Linked DNA regions of Homo sapiens. The protein of the gene in region 4 purifies or fractionates together with the protein of the main gene of each other region. This does not show direct contact. Each region holds a gene or a part of one and is shown on either strand. Other genes may lie near its edges. The genes, in order: ZNF746, GNL1, ZNF81, KLHL40, KIF2C, CEP85L and ZNF106.

Region 1 (3,500 bases), on a different chromosome or scaffold from region 4:
AGAGAAGCGGCCTCACGGTGATATAGGGGCCACTGGAACAGGGCCAGAGAGACACCCAGGGACAGCATCAGCCACCCGAGAGAGGCTCGAGACAAGTCCTTTAGTACAGTCCTACCTCGAGACGGGAAAATTTCTAAAGTTGTCAGGCCGGAAGTGTTGAGGGCCCACAGCTCCCCCATGCTGCCACGAGCCCTCCCCTGTCCCTCCTGTGATCCCTGCAACTTGTTCCTTATGTCCCCGTCTCAGCCACTTACCAGAGGTGGCATCCGTGGAGATGTCTCCTGCTCCGGAATCCAGCTGGCTGAGGCCCCAGGGCTCCTCCCCAATATCTGGCTGCCCGGCTGCCCACGCCTCCACGCCCAGGGCCTGCTGCTCCTGGAGCTGGAGCTCACCCTCCTGCTTGATCTGCATCAAGAGGTCTGGGGCGGGAACTGGGGGCCCCGAGCCTAGGAAAGGGAGTGAGTGTGAGGATACAGCATCACGGCCCCTCAGCCCTGGGGCATACACGCATCCAGCCGGAGAGATAGACACAGGGGCCTTACAAGGGTCCAACAGCAAAAGAGCCTGGTGGGAAGGGAGGCAGCAGCAAACAGGATGGGAGCCTAGGGCAGAGCCTGAGGTCACATGGTATTGGGAATGCGGGTAGGGTAGGAAAGGCTGAGGCGGGGGAGGGGAAGAATACACAAGCACATTCTCAGGGCTAGGCTGGTGGTCCAGAGGGAGACTAAGTTGCCCTGGGGATGGCCTGCCCTCACTTGAAACACAAGAAATGCTGAACAAAAGTGAACCCCAAGTCCCCCCAAAACCTTCCCCCCTCATATATTTAAGTGAGTGCAAAAGAAAAGATCCCAGAGGCAAGAATGACAGAGAACACACAGAGTCAATCACGAGTTACAGTGGAAGGCAAGTGACCTAGAGAGTTGTTGGAGTAGGATACAGGCCTTAGGGGCTGGGCTTTCATGTCCATGTGAGGTTGGGAGTGTGGCCGAGCCGCCTGCCTGAAGCCAGGAGTCATAGGCTCTGGCCTGTCTGTGAGATGGGGACTAGGAAAACTCTGTCTGCCTGCGGGAGCCACCAGGAAGCAGCCTACTTGTCCAGGGCTATGTGTGGGAAAGAAACCCATAAAAACTTGGAATCCCATGTCCACACAGAATTCACACTACCCACACGGGCAGACACCATAAACTGAGAAATTCACAGAAAAATTGGCTGAGAGCCATGGCAACTCAGGAGGCCCCAGCATGGGCAAATGCAGATCTGCCTCAGAGGGGCACCCACACAATGCAGTCCACAGGGGGCTCCTAAGGGAAAACTAAAACCAGAAGAAAAACTAAAACTTACAAAACAGAAGAGGTGCCAAATGGCCATGAGAGTCATGGCAGAGTTCACTCCCAAGAACTAATGAAAAAAAGGAGAGGCTGAATGATACAGTAACCTAAGTATGTCTAAGATCATCAAAGAGATAAAGAACAGAATCTTTAAGGCAAGAACAGCAAATTATTTTGAAAAAGGCAGATTTGAAAAAGAACTCAACATTCTAGAAACGACAGAGGCAGCTGTGGAAATGAAAAACTCAAATGGATGGCTCTGGCTCAACAACAACAGACTGAACACAGCTAGAGAGAATATTAGTGACTTGGGAGAGAGATCCAGGGAAATAACCCAGAGTACAACACTGAGAGATAAAGAATGAAAAATATGAAAAAGTTAAGAGACCTGGAGGACAGAATGAGAAATTCCAACACATGCTGGTAGAAATCCCAGAAGAAGAGAATGGAGAAATGAGTAATGGCAATAGGTAAAGAAATAATGGTTGAGAATTTTCCAAAACTGAAGGCATTGTTAAGTCCACAGTTTGAAGGAACAGACCAATTCCCAAGTAGGTAATAAAACAAACAAACAAACCTAGACAACATTCATGTGAAATGGAACCACAGCAAAGACAAAGAGAAAAACCTTAAAAGGTACCCAAGAGAAAATAATGACATTCAGACTACAGGAGATTTTCTTCAGCAACTAGGATATCAGAAGACAATGGAATATCTTCAAATGTTGAGAGAAAACATCTGTCAACTCATTTTATGAGGCTAAGACAATTTTTATTGCACAAACTAGAGGGGTAGTATATGAACAAATTTAAAAAATAATCTCATATATGAACAGATATGCAAAGATTCTAAATGAAAGAATTACAAATCAAACTCAGCAATATATTTTCAAAAAAGAAAAAGACATATTATGAACACATTGGGTTTATTCTGAGAGCTCAAGGATAACACTAGAAAATATAACGAACAAAGTTAAGATTAATAGCAAAAACAATATAATCATCTCAACAGATGTAAAAACAGCATTTAGCTCTTCTATTTCTGACATATGGCTGGCTAGATGTGCAGAGAAACAGAAATTCCTCCCAATGTGGAATATCTAAAATTGCTGAGTAGGCTGGGTACAGTGGCTCATGTCTGTAATCTCAGCAGTCTGGGAGGCTGAGGTGGGAGGAGCTCTTGAGCCCAGGAGTTTGAGGCTGCAGTGAGCCATGTTTGTGCCACTACACTTCAGGCTGGGTGACAAGGTGAGACCCTGTTTCAAATAAACAAACAAAAAAAGCCAGCCTAGGCAACATAGAAGACCCTGTCTCCACAGAGGGGAAAAAAAAAAGTTTTTAAAAAAAGTTAGCCAGGCATGGTGGCATCCCCTGTGGTCCCAGCTACTCAGGAGGCCCATTGTGGCCCAAAAACTTCCAGGTCAAGACTGTAGCTTGAAGTGGTCCTAAGTCTGCATTGGCATCAGATGACCAGCTGAGGAACACACACACATTCTCAGGAGGAAAGCATTTTAAACATAGCTTTCAAATAATCAATGAGCTCACAATTACACATCACCATCTCGAGAAAATCAGCACCACAAACTCAGCAGAAATCATGAACTGGAGAATATGACCAATGACTTTGGATATTAAAATTATCATATAAGGAATATAAAGTTCAATTATTTACAGAAATAAAAAGGGGGAATGAAAGTATGGAGAAATAAGACTATCAAAACTGACCAAATTTTGAAAAAGAATCAAATGTAACATTCTTTAGAATGGTGAGAAAAAATAACTGTTGTTTTGTTTGTTTGTTTGTTTGTTTGTTTGAGATGGAGTCTCGCTCTGTTGCCCAGGCTGGAGTGCAGTGGCGCGATCTTGGCTCACTGCAACCTCTGCCTCCCGGGTTCAAGCAATTCTCCTGCCTCAGCCTCCCCAGTAGCACTGGGACTACAGGTGCATGCCTCTAGGCCCAGCTAATTTTTATGTATTTTAGTAGAGATGGAGTTTCACTGTGTTGCCCAGGCTGGTCTTGAACTCCTGAGCTCAGGCAATCTGCCAGCCTCGGCCTCCCCAAGTGCTAGGATTACAGGCGTGAGCTACCGCGCCTGGCTAATAACTGAAATTTTAAAATCCAATGTGTAGGTTAAACAACAGAATGGAAATGATTGAATGGTGAATAGTGAAC
Region 2 (3,500 bases), on a different chromosome or scaffold from region 4:
GCACATCAACTTCAATCTTTACAATCACTATGCTAAGGGTCAATTATTACCCTCAGTTTGCAGATCAGGAAAATATCACAGATGTTAAGTAACAGAGCTAGCCAACAGGTACAGAATCCAGGTTTGACCCTCTCTCTGGCCACAAAGCCCACACCCTTTTACCTACGCTATAGCAGGGGGCTGGGGAAGAATATCTGGGCTCTGACCTTTCTGTTCACTGTAGCCTGGGGGATGAAAACACAGGCTGAGGCGGCCGTCCACTGCCAGCCGCAAGAGACTGTTGGCTGCTCTGTACACATCATTCCGAGCCGCCTTGGCTGTCTTGTAACCACGTTTCTCTGCCCAGGCTGGAGGAAGAAAAGAATAATGGAAAGGGAAAGCATTAACCAGGTACCAGTTATACTCCCACTCCCATAACACAGTCCTTCCAGTTTTCCCCAAAACATTCCAGGCCAGAGATCTTACTGGCTATGCAACAAAAATCTAGGGGTGAGTGGACAGCAGCTTCATCAATGGCAGAATCTCTGAGGAGAGGAAAGGAGACAGGGAAGGGTAAAAGGCGAGGCAGGTAAGGAAGAGCAGCTGAAACCAGGTGGGGCGAAGCCAGGCACATGGAACTCACCTTCACAGATGTCCCAGGCACACCAGGGGTGTTCCGCTGAGGGGTCCTCAGCCTCTGGGTGGCGCAGGTGGAGCAGGGCCTGCACGGGAATTCGGGAGGCCAGGTAGCCCACAGCAGTGTAGGGCTCCTGGATCTGGGCGATAGGGTAGATCCCTGCCAGAACCTGAGGGAAATGAGCACTCAGTACTTTCCTCAATGTCCCACCTTCTCTCTTTCCCTTACCCACCCTCCCCGTCATACCTGCAACTGCCTAGGCAGAAGAGATGGGAAGATGAGGCCTGGGCAGTCACAGAGCTTCACAGAGGGGGTAAGAAAGTAGGTCTGAAAGTATCGGGTATGGCCCGGGGTTCTGGAGACACTCACGACTTTCCGCCCCACCAGCCCATTGATCAGCGAGGACTTTCCCACATTAGGGAAACCTGAGGAAGGCAAGGAAAATTAACGTTTAACAGGTTTCTACTCTGTGATGGGACTTGGTGCTATACCTATAGGTAAAAGGGGAACTAAGGCTCAGAAATTAAGGAAATGGTATTGCAGAATACAAATCACGCTCTGGGCTGCCAGGGTTAAATCCTGGCCCTTCCACTTACCAGCTTTGTGATGTCAGGGCAACTAACTTTCTGAGCCTCTGTTTCTTCATTTTACAGTGTGGACACCTCCCTACCTCAGGGTGGTCAGGATTAAATGAGATAACCAATACAACTTGTGTGGGTCAGTGCCTGCAGTACAGTAAGTACCCAGTACCAGTGATCCACATCTCATAATTACTATGACTTGGCCTGGCACAGTGGCTCACGCTTGTAATCCCAGCGTGATTACTTTGGGAGGCCAAGGCGGGTGGATCACCTGAGGTCAGGACTTCAAGACCAGCCTGGCCAACATGGTGAAACCCCATCTCTACTAAAAATACAAAAATTAGCTGGGCGTGGTGGTGGGCGCCTGTAATTGCAGCTACTTGGGAGGCTGAGGCAGGAGAACCACTTGAACCCAGGAGGCGGAGGTTGCAGTGAGCTGAGATTGCACCATTGCACTCCAGCCTGGGCAATAAGAGGGAAACTCCATCTCAAAAAATAATAATAATAATTACGATGACTTGTCCAAGGAGAAAACTGGAAGCCTTGGGGCTCACTGCCACTCTGCTCACTCACCACCACCAGTTTTTGTGTTTCTGGCTGACTTCAGTGCCTTCATCTCCCTTCCACAGAGCATCTCCTTTACCCCACCTCAGCTGCCCACTCCCATGGTAATACCTGCATCTTGTCACTTCACAGCTCCAAAGCCTCAATTCCAAGCACCCCTCTCTGCCCTGACAACTCATCTTTCCAGCTCACTTACTCTGGTTACTCCATGCCAGTAAGTCTTTGACCCCTGACCTTAACACAGTAACACTATGCAATACCCAACTCGTGTCCTCAATTTCCTTCTTACTTGACTCAGATTTCATGATCCAGCTCCTCAGCCAGGCCCGTTCACAGACCTGGAACTCCCTGGTCCCACTTCTCCCCTCTATCTTACTCACCTGGCAAAATCCCAACCCTGTAAAATCCAGCTCTGCCCATTCAGCACTGCTCCTGGGCAGCTGACTGTGGCTAAGAAAAGATGTACCACTGTGCTCACTCTTTACAACACATGCAAGTATCTAGGAGGAAGGGAGGGAAGGAGGGAGAAAAAAGTTCTCCTTTGACGACCACCACCAGACCTAGTTCTCTGTCCGCTTTGCAGGAAAACTCCTTAAAAGACTTACCTACTTTTTTCACCATTTCTTCCTGCTATCTTCTTTGTAACTGTAAACTACAACATACAAAAAAATGCACAGAACATACATGTGCAGCCTGATGAACCCCATACCACCCAATGTGTGACAACATGTTCCATCTGTCCTTGTTTTTTTTGTTTTTGTTTTTGAGACAGAGTCTCACTCCCTCACCCGGGCTGGAGTGCAGTGGTGCGATGTTGGCTCACTACAACCTCATCCTCCCAGGTTCAAGCGATTCTCGTGCCTCAACCTCCTGAGTAGCTGAGACCACAGGCGTGCGGCTCCACACCTGGCTAACTTTTTGTATTTTTAGTAGAGATAGGGTTTTGCCATGTTGGCCAGGCTGGTCTCAAACTCCTGACCTCAAGTAATGCGCCTGCCTCAGCCTCCCAAAGTGCTAGGATTACAGGGATGAGCCACCATACCGGCCGCCACTCATCCTTCTTGATCATAATCCTCTCCCTCTATACATGCAAGCTTTATCCTTTTAAGGAAATCAACTCCTTACATTTCTCTTTAGTTTATGACCTGTGTATCTCTCAACAATGCAGCTTAATTTTGCAGCTTTCAAACTTGATAGAACTGAAATTGTGCAGTATGGATGCTATTGGGTCAGACTCTTTTCACACAATGTTATGTGAAGTTGTTGCACCTTCTCTCATGGGCCTACTCCAGTTTGGCTTTCTCCACCCCACTGAAACCACGGATCTTCACATTGCCAAGCCTGCTGAGCAGCTCTCTGTTCTCTCATTTGGCCTGTCAGCAACAGTTGACACAGCTGATTCCTCCTTTCCTCTTCAAACACCTTCTTCATTTGACTTCTGGGACGCTCCCTTGGTTTTCCTCCTTCTCACTGTCCTTTGCCCAACTAAATGCTGGCTTGTCCTAAGGCTCAGTCCTTGACCTCCTCTTCTCCAACTATTTCCTTTCTCTCCTACATCTCATCCAATTCCATGGCTTTTTTTTTTTTTTTTTTGACGAAGTCTTGCTCTGTCACCCAGGCTGGAGTGCAGTGGTATGATCTTGGCTCACCGTAACCTCTGCCTCCAGGATTCAAGCAATTCTCCTGCCTCACCCTCCTGAGTATCTGGGACTACAGGCACGCACCACCACACACGGCTA
Region 3 (3,500 bases), on a different chromosome or scaffold from region 4:
CAAGGATCGCTTTTCTTCCAGTTTGCAATAATATGTTCCTTATTTCTATCTGAGATCTCACTAAAAGTACCTTTAACATTCATGTTTCTACCAATAGTCTCGTTAACGCAATCTAGGCTTTTTCTGTCAAGCATATCAAAACCTAGCCCCTAGCTCCAGCCTCTACCCGTTACCCAATTCCAAAGCCACTTCACATTTTTAAGGTATTTATCACAGCCACACCCCATTTCCAAGTGTAAAACTCTGTATTAGTTTCCTAGGGCTGTTATAACAAAGTACCACAAACTAGGGGGCTCAAAACAAGAGAAATTTATTGTCTCACAGTTCTGGAGGCCAGAACTCCAAAACCAAGGTGTTAGCAGGGCCATACTCTCTTTGAAGGTGCTAGGGAAGGAACTGTTCCAGGCCTCTCTTAGCTTCTGGTGGCCTCAAGTGTTTCTTGGCTTACAGATGTATCATTCTAGTCACATTCCATCTTCTCCCTGTGTATCTTCATATTGTCTTCCCTCTGTGTGTGTGTTTGTGTGTGTGTGTGCGTGCGTATGTGTATATGTGTCTGTGTCCAGTTTTCTCCTTTTTATAAGGACACCAATTATATTAGATTAAAGCCCACCCTAATGATCTCATTTTAGCTTGATTACTTCTGTAAAGACTCTATTTCCAAATAAGGTCACATTCTGGGGGGCTGGGGTATTAGGACTTCAACATATTTTATTTGGGGGCACAATTTAACCCATAACAGGCTCCTCACAACTTCACAGGATGGTTGTCCTTACCCACTGAGAGCAGGTGGCTGTAGTTCTCCAACATTACATCCTGGTACAGGCGTCTTTGAGTAGAGTCCAGTTGCTGCCACTCCTCTCTACTGAAGTCCACAGTCACATCCTCAAATGACACTGATACCTGTAACAACACAATCTTGTTCAAGGCAACATGATCAGCACTGGAGGATGGAGAGAAAACAGATAGGAAGCTCTTTTTGATACTTTTTCATCATAATATACGATATGGTATGCCCATTAAATACTTAGTTTATATATATACACATATGTAATATTGTGTAGAATATAAAAATCTAATCATAAATTTCTGCTATTTATTATGTATGACATTTACTCTTCCATTTATTAAAAATTATAATTTTTAGTAAGGATTTGACCTTGATCCTATTTTGTTGCTCATTTTTATGAGAAATTTGTGCCCTATAACTTGTAGAAGGAAGCACATATATCCCTTCCATCCCAATTTTTAAAAATTTCACATAGCTCCCTCTCCTGTTGCTTTCATTTACTCTTCAAAAATATGGCCTCTTTCTCTTGATGCCCTGTTATTGCTCATTTCTAATTTAATTCCGTCATGGTCAGAAAGTATACTCTGTATGATTTCAACATATGGTCTATCTAGGATAATGGTCCATGTCTCCCTGAAAAGAATATATATTTGGCTATTGATGGCTGTATTGTTCTGTAATGTATAAATCAAGTTGGTTGAGTGTTGTTGAAATTTCCTGTTGCATCACTGATTTGTTTTCTACTTGTTTAATCACTTATTTGTCAAGATTTTGGTAAAAACTGACAAATGTTAAAGTTTATATGGCTATGCGAAGGACCCAGAATAGCCAAAAGCAAGAAAAAGTATGAAGGATTTATACCCCCTAATGTTAAGATTTACTGTAAAGCTACAGTAATACAGGCAGTATGGGATGATGTATGCACAGACAGATATATCATTAGAACAGAATAAAGTCCAGAAACAGACCCACACATGTACGGACAATTGTTTTTTGACAAAAGTGCCAATGTGATTCAATGGGCGAAAGTGAAGTCTTTTCAACAAATTGTGTTGGAAGAGATAGATATCAGTATTAGGAAAAAAGCATAAACCTTGACCCACGCCTCACACCATATACAAAAATTAACAAAAATTAAGTTTCAGTATGACTGCATTGCTTTTATCAGACCAACCTTCATACACATAACAACTATAAACTCTGAACAAAAAATATTTTAAAAACTATCTAAAGATACTAAGGAGCAACCCAAGTCAGGCATCTATGGGAGGAGAGCTGACACTTAGAAGAGAGGCTGGCACTTTAGCTTGTGAATAGGCCCAGTCAGTGCCACGTGGGGTAACTAAAATTCCAAGAGAAGTGGTACATGCCTGTGGTCCCGGCTACTTGGGAGGCTGAGGCGGGAAGACTGATTAAACCTGAGAGGTCAAGGCTCAGTGAGCTATGATTGTGCCACTGCACTCCAGCCTGGGTGACAGAGTGAGACCCTGTCTCAAAAAAAAAAAAAAAAGAGAGAGAGAGAAAAGAAAAGAAAACCACCAGTGTTATTGACTTGAAGAATTGAAGGGGAGTTCTGCAGTCATCACTACCATTGGAAAATCAAGGGGGAATCCAGAAAGGCATTGAAAGAGAGAAGGGTGCCTAAATTCTGTGAATGAACTCTGCCCAGATCTCTGATTGACCAGCTGAATGAACTGGAATTTGAGCTACCACATACCACAGAGAAAACATTTCCTAGTTTGAGTCTAGCCAAGTTAAGTGCTCCCTACACAAAGCAAAACAAAAAAATCAACAATAGTCAGAGGAATTAAACAGAATCAAGCATCTCTAATGTATGTTTCACAACAAAGATACAATCCAAAACAACTCAACAGAGAAAGAGACAGAAAGGTGTGGAGAGAAAGGGAAGAGGCTCAAGAGAAAATGCACTCAGAGACTGACCTGAGGTGATCCAGATGCTAGAATTAGCAGAAAAGCACTTTAAATCAGTTAGTTATAATTATGCTCAAAAACATACAAATATGTTCATAATGAATGATTAAATAGGATAGGCCAACTAAGAAATATAAACTATTTTAAAAAACTGAAAAATACAATCTGAAACTAAAAAGTTCACTGGATGGGCTTGACAGAAGAATAGAGGTAACTGAAGAAAGAGGTAATTAACTTAAACATAGACCAACAGAAATTATCCAATCTGAAAAGCAGAGAGAACAAAATTGAAAATAAAAACAAACGGAGTCTCAGGGATGATGCTATGGTTTCAATGTTTGTTGTCCCTCCAAAATTCATGTTGAAATTTAATCCCAATGTAACAGTATTAAGAGGTATGACCTTTGGAAGTTATTTAGGTCATGAGGGCTCATGAATGGGTTAGTGTTCTTTTAAAAGGGCTGGAGGGAACTAGCTACATCCTTCCTTTTTGACCTTCCACACTTTCCACCACGTGAGGACACAGAATTCACCCCCTCTGGAGGACACAGCAACAAGGCGCCATCTTGGAAGCAGAGAGCAGCCCTCACTGGACACCTAAGCTGCTGGTGCCTTTATCTTGGACTTCTCAGCCTCCAGAATTGTGAGAAATAAATTTCTATTGTTTATAAGATACCAAATCTCAGGAATGTTGTTACAGTAGGACAAACAAACTAAAACAGATGAGTAAGACAAAAATCAAAAGATCTAACATACATGCAATTTAAGACCCAGAAGG
Region 4 (2,254 bases):
ATGGGTGCAGAGACAGGGACTGAGCCGAGCCTGGATGGGTGCCCTCCCCCACCCCCACTCCCGTCTCCTCCAGGTCATTCAAATGGGGTGAATCGGACCCGCTGCCTTACGTGGTGTATGGCCACACAGTGCTCTCCCACATGGACCTTGTCTACGTAATTGGCGGCAAAGGCAGTGACAGGTGAGGCTGGGCCTGGAGTGAGTCTGTGGAGCAGAGGTAGAATCTCCCAGAGGCTGTCAGGGGTTTGTCCTGGCTGCCCCGGCAGGTGATTGCAGGGAGGCGTGGCTGGGCTCCTGCTTCTCTCCACCCATCCCCACCCTCCACCCCACAGGAAGTGCCTGAACAAGATGTGCGTCTATGACCCCAAGAAGTTTGAGTGGAAGGAGCTGGCACCCATGCAGACCGCCCGCTCACTCTTTGGGGCCACTGTCCATGATGGCCGCATTATCGTGGCAGCTGGGGTCACCGACACAGGGCTGACCAGTTCTGCCGAAGTGTACAGCATCACAGACAACAAGTATGAAAGCTTGTCCCTTCCGCCAAGGACAACTGCATGGCTTTGGGCTTCTGTCAGCCCCAGCAGGAGCTGCAGTCCCTGTCTTGGGTCTCCAGTGTTGACTTTGGACATCAGTATAGAAATAGGCTTTCTCTCCTGATCAGCAGTGAGGTGGGGAGGCGGGGCAAGGGTTATGGCCAGCCTGGTCTGCAGGAGGGGGCTCCCAGGGCTGGGGGAGGGGATGCCAGGTTCCTCATTCAGGGACTCATACCAGGCAATGGCCTGGTGCAAGGGATATAGCAGTGAACAAGACAGAAGCTGCCCTGCCTGGGACATCAGAAAAGAGAAAACTGAACTGAGAGACAGTTGGACTCAGCTCGCAAAAGGGGTGAGGGTGGTGGGAGGAGGTTGCCCCAGACTAAGGAAAGGTGGTGCTGAGGCAGTTTGGAGAAAAAACTCAAGGCCTATAGGAGGGAAGGTGTTGCTCCAGCTGGGTGGAGGTGGGTGGGTGATGGAGTTGGGATGGCGGTGCTGGGGCTGGAGCGGGGGCCAGCAGGAGAGGGACTGTATCTCATCTGTGTTCTACTAAAGTACTTCATGGCAACTGATATAGAGAGCAGATTAGGGATTTCCCAGGGGTCAGGAAGGTCAGGGGTGATAAAGGCCTGGAGCTGGGGGCACAGCGGAGATGGGGTTGAGGGGATGCACCGGACAAAGACAGGCCAGGGCTTCTTACACTGTGATGGGCATGCAAATCTCCTGGGGATCGCCTTAAAGTGCAGATTCTGATTCTCGGTATGCGGAGGGCTGAAAGCCTGTAAGTCTGCATTTCTAACGCACCCCCAGGAGATGCTGACGCTGCTGGGCCATGAACCACACTTTGAGTAGCAAGAGTCTAGGAGGTGGGAGAAACAGGGCTTAGCTATTGATTGGATGTGGGGGTGAGAGGGGGAGAAGTACATGCTTCTGAGTGAGGGTGGGAGGCCATTTACTGGATAATCATTGGGATTGGGTAGGGAAAGTGAGGGTCCAGTTAGGACATGTGGACTTGAAGTACCTGGGGGTGTCCAAAAGGACCCCACCCGGGAGAGAGAGGGCTGAGCTGGAGGGAGAGATCTGGGGGTCAGTAGCACACGGAGGGGCCAAGCTCCCTCAGGAGAGAGAGTGTAAATGGGAGGAGCTGAGGTCCAAGCCCTGATGGTGGAGGCAGCTGCATTATCCAGGAAGGAGGCCACGAAGGTGAGGCCGAAGAGATGGGTGAGGAAAGTCACGTCAGCAGGGCTGTGTGCTGTAGGACCTCAGTGCGTGTGCAGTGACTGTGGACCTCAGGAAGGTCAGTTTTGGAGGATGGGACTAAGGCCCAAGGCAGGAGCCAGGGTAGCGAAGATACATTGAGAACAACTGGGCTGTGAAGGGAGAAGAAGGATAGAGCAGGTGTGCAAGGTGGGTGGGGCTGCAGGGGCCGCTGAGGGGCAAAAGGACTGCGTCCAGGGCAAGGCTGGGGGCCTGCTAGGGGCTGGGGTTGTGAGTTGGAGGGTGGAGTTAGTTCAGGAGAGGAGTAGGGGCAGTGGGGAGATCCATGGTGGACTTTGCTGGACAGGTTGGATAGAATGGCAAGAGGACAAGGAAAGGAAAGTGGAGGAGCAAGAGAATGGGGAAGGAAGGGAAGACCAGAGGGACAGGGAAGGGGAATGGGGTTGGGGGCATGGGTGCCTGGGACTTGGATTGCAAAGGGTTGCAGTTGGAGCTGTGGGTGC
Region 5 (2,215 bases), on a different chromosome or scaffold from region 4:
TAAGACGGAGTCTTGCTCTGTCGCCAGGTTGGAGTGCAGTGGCGTGATCTCGGCTCACTGCAACCTCCGCCTCCCGGGTTCAAGTGATTCTCCTGCCTCAGCCTCCCAAGTAGCTGGGATTACAGGTGCCTGCCACCATGCCTGGCTAATTTTTGTATTTTTAGTAGAGACAAGATTTCACCTTGTTAGCCAGGCTGGTCTCAAATTCCCGACCTTAGTTGATCTGCCTGCATCAGCCTCCTAAAGTGCTAGGATTACAGGCGTGAGCCATCACGCCCGGTCAAATGATTCTTTTTAAATAATAGGTATACAACTCAGCCTCCCGAGTAGCTGAGACTACAGGTACGCGCCACCACACCAGGCTATTTTTTTTTATTTTTTAGTAGAGACAGGGTTTCACTATGTTGGCCAGGATGGTCTTGATCTCCTGACCTTGTGATCTGCCTGCCTTGGCCTCCCAAAGTGCTGGGATTATAGGCATAAGCCACCGCGCCCAGCCCGAGTGACTTTATTCTTTCACCGTACTTGTCACCAAATCCTCCTCAATTCTGCTCCCTAAATGGTTTTTTTCTTTCTTTCTTTCTTTTTTTATTATTATACTTTAAGTTCTAGGGTACATGTGCACAACGTGCAGGTTTGTTACATATGTATACATGAACTATGTTGGTGTGCTGCACCCATTAACTTGTCATTTACATTGGGTATATCTCCTAATGCTATCCCTACCCTCAGTTCTTTTTATTATAATTTTTGCTGCACACACCACCTTTGGGATATTTATTTATTTTTATTTTTTGTAGAGATGGGGCCATGTTACCCAGGCTGGTCTCGAACTCCTGAGCTCAAGTGATCTTCCTTCCTTGACCTCCCAAAGTGTTGGGATTACAGGCATGACTCACTGCACCTGGCCAAATGATTATTTTATTTTATTTTTGAGACAGTCTTGCTCTGTTGCCCAGGCTGGAGTGCAGTGGCACCATCTCGGCTCACTATAACCTTCGCCTCCTGGGCTCAAGTGATTCTCCTGCCTCAGCCTCCCAAGTAGCTGGGATAACAGATGCCTGCCACCATGCCTGGCTAATTTTTGTATTTTTAGTAGAGACGGGGTTTCACCATGTTGGCCAGGCTGGTTTCAAACTCCCGACCTTAGTTGATGTGGCCGCCTCAGCCTCCCAAAGTGACAGGATTACAGGCGTGAGCCATTGCGCCCGGTCAAATGATTCTTTTTAAATAATAGATATACGACTGGGCGTGGTGGCTCACGCCTGTAATCCCAGCACTTTGGGAGGTCGGGGCGGGAGGATCACCTGAGGTAGGGAGTTCGAGACCAGCCTGACCAACATGGAGAAATCCCGTCTCTACTAAAAATACAAAATTAGCTGGGCGTGGTGGCACATGCCTGTAATCCCAGCTACTTGGGAGGCTGAGGCAGGAGAATTGCTTGAACCTGGGAGGTGGAGGTTGTGGTGAGCCGAGATGGTGCCGTTGCACTCCAGCCTGGGGGACAAAAGCGAAACTCCATCCCCCCCCAAAACAAACAAACAAACAAACAAACAAAAACCAACCAGATATATAGGCTGGGCATGGTGGCTCACACCTGTAATCCCAGCACTTTGGGAGGCTGAGGCAGGCGGATCACTTAAGATCAGGAGTTCAAGACCAGCCTGGCCAACATGGTAAAACCCCATCTCTACTAAAAATACAAAAAATTAGCCAGGCATGGTGGCACGCACCTGTAATCCCAGGTACGCAGGAGGCTGAGGAAGGAGAATCGCTTGAACCCAGGAGGCGGAGGCTGCAGTGAGCCAAGATTGCACCACTAAACTCCAGCCTGGGTGACGAGTGAGACTCTGTCTCAAAAACATATATATATAGAGAGAGAGTACATATTTTGGGGGGTACCTTGTAAGATTTTCATGCTTGTATATCTAAATGGTTCATGAATCTCATGTCCTCATTCCAATCCCATGAACACGGACACAGTTTGGTCTAGGCACTAGTTTCTCTTTTTTTTTTTCTGAGATGGAGTCTTGCTCTGTCACCCAGGCTAGAGTGCAGTGGCACGATCTTGACTCACTACAACCTTTGCCTCCCTGGTTCAAGTAATTCTCCTGCCTCAGCCTCCCAAGTAGCTGAGATTACAGGCGCCCGCCACCATACTCGGCTAATTTTTTGTATTTAGTAGACATGGGGTTTCGCCACGTTGGCCAGGCTG
Region 6 (3,500 bases), on a different chromosome or scaffold from region 4:
AAAGCAAAACAGTATGATAGAATTTGAGAAACCTCAAGAAAATCAGTATCTAGCTCTAAAATGGTAGAGTACAAACTGTGACAAAGGAGAGTACCAAGAAATAAGGCTATAGAGGTAGGTAGTAGCTACCTATCTTGACCACAGAGCAGTGTAGGCATTAGGAAACCAGGTTCATAGTTTAGACAGATCTGTCTGGCAACAATGTAAAATGGATTAGGGGGAGGGGATGAGAAAGATGGTTGTCAGAGAGACCAGTATAGGTGACGGGTTATGAAAACTTAAATTAAGGCAATAGTGCAATGGAGATAGAAGGGCAGGAATGTTAGATGTAGTAAGCAGATGACAGAACTGATAGCACTCAATCATCATCAACTTGAGTGATGGGCAGGGATTGGGCACAGGCGCCAGATGAAGGAAAAAGCAGAGTGGAGAATAAATTCTGGGTTCAAGTGACAGGTGAATGGTGGTGTTACTCACTGAGAAGAGGAACCGGTTCAGGGAGGGAAGGAAAGTGTGTTCTGGTTTTGAATGTGTAGAGTCTGTGATGCATTTGAAATAGCCAGTTCTAATATACATGGGAATATAATCTGGAGCCCAGAGGAGATAAATGTCTGGGTAAAGGAGATAAATGTCTAGGTGAAAGGTATGGCAGTAACAGAAAAAACAGGAGTGGATAAGATCACTCAGATAAAGTACTGAATAAAAAGAAACAAACACAAAACCAGTAACAAAAGGCTTCTGGGGATACCAATAATTAAGTGGCAGAGAAGTCCACAGAAGACAGAGACTGAGCAGTCATAAAGGCAGAAGCAGAACCTAGAGAATGATGTCATGGAAACCAAGGTAGTGCACAGTTTTCAGAAGGACAGGGTGAGTAAATGGAGCCATGAAGTGACTGGTTTTTCACAAATCAACTGGCTGGTAAAACTTTCACAATGCCAAATATAAGGTAAGGATTCTGGGGTCAAACTTTAAAGACTAGAAGGAGTATTGGGAGGTGGGCGTGGTAAGATTCACATTAGGATAGCTCTACTACTCTATTACTGAAAAACTTAACAAATGCTACCTTATGACAGTGAAAATGTAGGAGACTCTAAAGTAATTAAAAGGGTGACCAACTCTAAAATCATGAAGAAAGTGAGTTCCCTTTGTGTGTGAGCTTTGCTTCTTGCTCCCAAGAGATATTAAAGCACTCCATGTTCACCAGGCAAACTTCTCCTCTTCCTCGTCTGAGAGCGACACTGAACACCAACTACTCTGTGGAGTCTCCACAGCCCTTCCCACGTAGATTTAGTTGTTTTTTTCCTCTTGTGCTCCCACTGTCCTTTGTCCACATCTCAACTATAGCACCTATCAGAATGCTCTAATAATTTGGTTAATGTGTGGACAAGGACTGTGTTCAGGTTATCTGCATTACCAGCACTTACTTAGTGTCTGGACCATAGAAGGCATCTGATAAATGTTTACTCCGTGAGTGAATATACTTAAACATTATGTGTTTTTTCGATATCCACATTTGTGTATGTGTACAAATGTCTATGAAATGAAAGGGACATAGTTGAGCACAGATAATGTTTCATTTAACAAGTGATATACTTTGGTCAAGAGCATTATTTGATTTGCCAAAATAACTATTATGATGCAAAATGGTGGAATCTTTTTGATGAAACTAGAAACAAAATCAGTTTGTTTGAAACAAAACCAGTATTATTAACCATAATATTAGGCAGCTACTAAATACACGTTGGCCCATAAACCTTATTATATGGTCTTACTGCATTCCTATTTCCTTCCAAGTTCATTTCTTCTCTATTATAAAGAGACTAACATCCTGATTTGGAACCACGTACAGAGATGAGCGTTTCTGCAAAAGTAGCACAGAAAGAAAGGGACACTAGGATTATTACTGTGGCAGCTCCCACAATTATGTGTGGAGGAAGACAGAATTGAGGCCAAGAGTGAATGGGTGTCACATTAAGCCAGCAGGTACGCATGACAAAGGCAACAGATTTGTAGGCTGTGAAAACTGGCTCATGTGAAATCACTGGCACTCACGTGAAGCAGCTGCCATAGAACATATACTGCACTGGAAAGCAAAAATATTTCTCAAATATTTTACCAGTGGACAATATGGTTGGGTCACTTAATCTATACAACTAACACATGAAAGCAAATAGAAGGAATCATTATTTTTGGAAGAGAAAATGGGAAGTCACACCTAACTACCACTCTATTCACATATTTACAGATTCAACATAGGAAACATCACCAGGCATTCTACCAAGTGGCAGTTAATGTCAGCTATAACCCTACTCACTTCTTGCAATGAAGTAATAACAGGTATACATAAACCCACAGACTGATTCTAAGTAGGAAAAGAGATTACAAAAATAAACAGAGAAAAGGCAGTCGGAAGTTCCTGATTCATGAAGATAGGTTTCTAATTGCCACAAAATAAGGACAAGTCATCAGACACTTACATCTTATTCCCAGTAATAATGAAAGATTAGGCTCCTTGCCCTGAGCACGCTGATTAAGAATACTACACAATGCTTTCAAGTCAAACAAACAACAGGACATTTCCTTGAACAGCTGATCAATCACAGTCAAATCAAATAGTGGCCGTTTGGAAAGAACTGTCTGCTGCCTAGATTGGTCAGGTTCCTGGCCCTGATCCAATAAAGAGCATGTCTCATCTGTTTGTCTTTGGTTCTGCAAGGATAAAGAAAACAAACATCAGATTGTTAGAACAGAGGAAAGGTACTCAAAGCCATACAGGTTAACATTCTCCCCCAAGTCTATAAACAAAACGATGGAGTCATATTATATGCACATTAACCAAATTCAACTACATATATGCAGTGGGAAAAAAAACACATAGAAAAATAACAATTTAAATAGTGGAAATTGTTTCTCTGTGCCATCTGATGCTTTAGCGTATATCCAAGGGAGGAAACATAAATCCAGTCTCAGTTTCTAGGAGTCTCTCACGTAATAAGCATGTTGGTTGTGTATGTATTTTTCTTTTTTGGGCCTCAATCTGTCACCCAGGCTGGAGTACAGTGGCGCAATCATGACTCACTACTGCAGCCTTGACCTCCTCGGGCTCTGGTGATCCTCCCACCTCAGCCTCCTGAATATCTGGGACCACAGGTAAACACCATGATGCCTGGCTAATTTTTGCATTTTTTGTAGAGAGAGGGTTTTGTCACATTGCCTAAGCTGGTCTCAAACTCCTGGGGTGAAGTGATCTGCCCACCTCAGGTTCCCAAAACAAAGTATTAGGATTACAGGTGTGAGCCACCATACCCAGCCTGTATTTTTCTATAATGAGATTTATTCCAAGGATAAAAAGAACTAAAAAGTAACTTTGAACCTCACTCTGTGGTTTTTATTGTTAGTAGCAATAGTGGTTTAATTACTTTGAAACTACTTTTTGCATATTGGTGGGGGGAAGCATCTATGTTAATGTTGATAGGAACCACAAACTTCGGTGCGAG
Region 7 (3,500 bases), on a different chromosome or scaffold from region 4:
GGTCTCGCTTTGTCACCCAGGCTGCAGTGCAGTGGTGCAAACACTGCTCACTGCAGCCTTGACCTCCTGGACTCAAGCAATTCTCCTGCCTCAGCCTCCCAAGCAGCTGGGATTATAGGCACATGCCACTATGCCCAGCTATTATTGTTATTATTTTTTTGAGACAGAGTCTCACTCTGTCACCCAGGCTGGAGTGCAGTGGCGCAATCTCGGCTCACTGCAACCTCCACCTCCCGGGTCCAAGCGATTCTCCTGCCTCAGCGTCCTGAGTAGCTGGGATTACAGGAGCACGCCACCATGCCCAGCTAATTTTTGTATTTTTAGTAGAGATGGGGTTTCACCATGTTGGTCAGGCTGGAATTATTATTATTACTAATAATAATTATCAATAATTTTTGTATTTATTTGTAGAGACAGGGTTTCACCACATTGCCCAGGCTGGTCTCAAACTTCTGGGCTCAAGGAATCCACCTGCCTCAGACTCCCAAAGTGCTGGGATTACAGGCATGAGGCACTGTGCCTAGCAACATTCCAATTTTTCAAATTTTAAATGACTTATCCAAAGTTATATAGGCTACTAATGGAAGGGAGAAGATTTGAACCCAGGCCTTTTGATTCCTAATCAAAACTCTTTCCATAACATATTGTCTGTTGCTAAACATTTTTGGGATGCACAGTTTACAGACCTTTCTATAGAAGGAAGAAACTGGCCAGGCGTGGTGGTTCAGGCCTGTAATCCCAACCATTTGGGAGGTCAAGTTAGGAGGACTGCTTGAGCCCAGGAGTTTGGGACTATCCTGGGAAACACTGGGAGATTCCATCTCTATAAAAGCATTTTTTAATTTTTATAACTTTTTATAATTTTATATAACTTTTTATAACCTTTAAATTTTTACAATTTAAATCATAATTTTATAAAATTAAAAGTTAGAAATTTTAATAACCAGGCATGGTGACACACGTCTGTAGTCCCAGCTACTGGGGGGAGTGAGGTGGGAAAATTGCTTGAGCCCAGGAGGTCAAGGCTGCAGTGAGCCATGATCGTGCCACTGCGCTCCAGCCTGAGTGACAGAGCAAGACCCTGTCTCAAAAAAACAAAAAAAAAGGATGAAACCAAGGAGACAGGAGAGAAATAACATGACCTTTTCATGACTACTTTTCATCCCCTCAAAGAGAACAAAAAGGCCTGGTGCAGTGGCTCATGCCTGTAATCCCAGAACTTTGGGAGGCTGAGGCAGGCGGATCACCTGAGGTCAGGAGTTCGAGACCAGTCTGGCCAACATGGCGAACCCTGTAACCCTGTCTCTACTAAAAATACAAAAATTAGCTGGGGGTGGGGTGGGCACCTGTAATTCCAGCTAATCAAATGCTGAGGCACGAGTATCACTTGAACCTGGGAGGCAGAGGTTGCAGTGAGCAGAGATTGCACCACTGCACTCCAGCCTGGGAAATAGAGCAAGACTCTGTCTCCAAAAAAAAAAAAAAAAAAAAAAAAAAGCAGAGAAAACAAAAAAGTAACACGCTATAGAGGGCCCAATCCATCAGATGCCCTCTGAATACCTTGTAATCCCTGTAGAATCTGTATTCTATGGGTCCTCAGTGCACTCATCTCCATAGTTATCTAAAAATAAAGTATTTTATTAAGCATTTTGAAATCCAACTTGTAAGGTCCTCTAGGTCTCCCCATTTTTCTTCTATGTCCTGACCAAAAATCAGAGTGTCTTGACTGCTCTGTGACCCAGCCAGCCGCAGGTTTTCTCCAGCAGGCTTGAACCCTACCTGGGGCCTTGAAGATTCCCAGGCACTGATAAAAGTATCTAGGTTGTTGCCCAAAACACTGAAAGAAATTGGCCCTGGCCCTGAGCCAAATTCCTTAAACCCTCATATAAACTCCACATCCCGCCCCCTGGCTGTGGATATACCTAGGGAGAACACCCTTGTGGGGACTGCTGCAGCCTACTCTGTAAGTAAGCTCTCCTAATAAATGCTTTGGACTCATCACCCTGGCATTTAGTGCTTCTTTCTTTGGAATCCTAACTGTCCCCCATTAGGCACAGTCTGGGGCACTTCCCTTGTGGAAACTCCCCTGCCATTGCTTTTGGGGTGACTCCAGACATGGGTTTGGCAGCACAAAACAAGATTTCGGAGATGATCCATTTTTATTAAATCCTCCACATGCTGTTACCTGCTGCTTGAGCATAAGTAGCCTCTGAACTTCCACATAAGCTGTCTGAAGGGCTGCACGGGCTTGCAGAAGATTGTTATCCATGCACTGCAATGACTTACTAAGTTCTTCCTCCCTTAAAGAAATATTCAGCAGCTGGTCAACCTGAGAACGTTCTGCCAAAAGAAATCATAAGGTTCAGGTTAATACGAGAGATTTCCCTCTCATCACACAGCTCAGAAGACTAAACTATACCCATTATTTAGGATAAGACTTTATGTTCTCCTCAGTAGGTCATTGGAAATTCATAAAACATTTAGTCAAGCACAATGATATCAAAGCTAGGAACCAAAAGTGAGAACTGCTAAGATGGAGGTATCTCATAAGCTCCAGTGTACCATCACATCATTCTGTCTCATCTAATCACCGCCTTCTACCACCACCTTTCCAGGTGAAATCTGTCCCATGCAAACCACCTGTTCTAGGACTCGTTTCCCATTCTTCCTTTATCTACCACTGTCTTCACACAGGACTTTTGCTTAGATTGGACTCTAGACCTAGACTGCTTGCACTCTCTTTCCAATCCATATTTAGTCTGTTAGTTGACTTAAAAATTGTTTTTATTAGAGAAGACTTCCTGAAGAAAATACAGCTTTGAAATAGTACATTTAACTTAGTTTGAATAAAATGTTCTGTGTATGTATTTACCATCATTGTGTTTGTCTGTTTCCTATTCAATATGCCAGGACCTCTCCCTTAAGCTCCACACCCACATATCCAACTACTGACTATGATATTTCTAGCTAGGTTATCTCAAAGGTCCTTTAAGTCAAAGAATCCCTGAGGGAATTCATCATCTTTCTCTATTCTCAATCTGCTCCTCTCATGGAGTTTTCTAGCTCTACATATGCTCCATCTGGTTGGCCCAGCCAGAAATGTGGGTTGTCCTTGACTCCTCCCTTATCCATCACATCCACTCACTCAAGCCTCATCCAATCACTTCCAGGACTAGCCCTTATACTAGAACTGGGTTAGAGTCAAGGAAAAGCAAGAATCACAGAAATACATCAATGAGGGAGCAATGTTAATAACTTCTTTCCATAATTCACTTTAGAAAAGCAACCAAGGAAGGGAGTGTGGAGGTGGGGCAGCGGGGAAGCAACCAAGATGCCTCAAAAACTGAAAGTGAGAGAAATGGCTATACATGACCAAGAGGGCCAACACATTTCATCCCACTGAAAAGGCTCAAGGAAACTTCCTGGCTTTATATTGTCCAAGTGGTATACTAACCTTGGCTTACAAGTCTATGTGACATCATATATTTCTTCTACAGTTG

Evidence for each region.
Region 1: the proteins of KLHL40 (region 4) and ZNF746 purify together in Homo sapiens (affinity purification with mass spectrometry; 2 studies listed by BioGRID and IntAct, with this or other methods). This does not show direct contact.
Region 2: the proteins of KLHL40 (region 4) and GNL1 purify together in Homo sapiens (affinity purification with mass spectrometry; 2 studies listed by BioGRID and IntAct, with this or other methods). This does not show direct contact.
Region 3: the proteins of KLHL40 (region 4) and ZNF81 purify together in Homo sapiens (affinity purification with mass spectrometry; 2 studies listed by BioGRID and IntAct, with this or other methods). This does not show direct contact.
Region 5: the proteins of KLHL40 (region 4) and KIF2C purify together in Homo sapiens (affinity purification with mass spectrometry; 2 studies listed by BioGRID and IntAct, with this or other methods). This does not show direct contact.
Region 6: the proteins of KLHL40 (region 4) and CEP85L purify together in Homo sapiens (affinity purification with mass spectrometry; 2 studies listed by BioGRID and IntAct, with this or other methods). This does not show direct contact.
Region 7: the proteins of KLHL40 (region 4) and ZNF106 purify together in Homo sapiens (affinity purification with mass spectrometry; 2 studies listed by BioGRID and IntAct, with this or other methods). This does not show direct contact.

Annotation. Positions count from the first base shown.
Region 1 is NC_000007.14:149,477,310-149,480,809, forward strand, and holds part of ZNF746 (zinc finger protein 746), read right to left. Parts: intron 447-3,500; coding exon 255-446; intron 1-254.
Region 2 is NC_000006.12:30,546,490-30,549,989, forward strand, and holds part of GNL1 (guanine nucleotide-binding protein-like 1), read right to left. Parts: intron 1,042-3,500; coding exon 863-1,041; intron 786-862; coding exon 623-785; intron 348-622; coding exon 207-347; intron 1-206. UniProt on the Homo sapiens protein: Possible regulatory or functional link with the histocompatibility cluster.
Region 3 is NC_000023.11:47,885,402-47,888,901, reverse strand, and holds part of ZNF81 (zinc finger protein 81), read right to left. Parts: intron 904-3,500; coding exon 777-903; exon of another isoform or gene 687-776; intron 1-686. UniProt on the Homo sapiens protein: May be involved in transcriptional regulation.
Region 4 is NC_000003.12:42,688,537-42,690,790, forward strand, and holds part of KLHL40 (kelch-like protein 40), read left to right. Parts: intron 1-73; coding exon 74-181; intron 182-332; coding exon 333-518; intron 519-2,254. UniProt on the Homo sapiens protein: Substrate-specific adapter of a BCR (BTB-CUL3-RBX1) E3 ubiquitin ligase complex that acts as a key regulator of skeletal muscle development.
Region 5 is NC_000001.11:44,763,837-44,766,051, reverse strand, and holds part of KIF2C (kinesin-like protein KIF2C), read right to left. Parts: intron 1-2,215. UniProt on the Homo sapiens protein: In complex with KIF18B, constitutes the major microtubule plus-end depolymerizing activity in mitotic cells. Regulates the turnover of microtubules at the kinetochore and functions in chromosome segregation during mitosis.
Region 6 is NC_000006.12:118,466,592-118,470,091, forward strand, and holds part of CEP85L (centrosomal protein of 85 kDa-like), read right to left. Parts: intron 2,713-3,500; coding exon 2,481-2,712; intron 950-2,480; exon of another isoform or gene 868-949; intron 1-867. UniProt on the Homo sapiens protein: Plays an essential role in neuronal cell migration.
Region 7 is NC_000015.10:42,442,642-42,446,141, forward strand, and holds part of ZNF106 (zinc finger protein 106), read right to left. Parts: intron 2,341-3,500; coding exon 2,186-2,340; intron 1,622-2,185; coding exon 1,561-1,621; intron 1-1,560. UniProt on the Homo sapiens protein: RNA-binding protein. Specifically binds to 5'-GGGGCC-3' sequence repeats in RNA. Essential for maintenance of peripheral motor neuron and skeletal muscle function.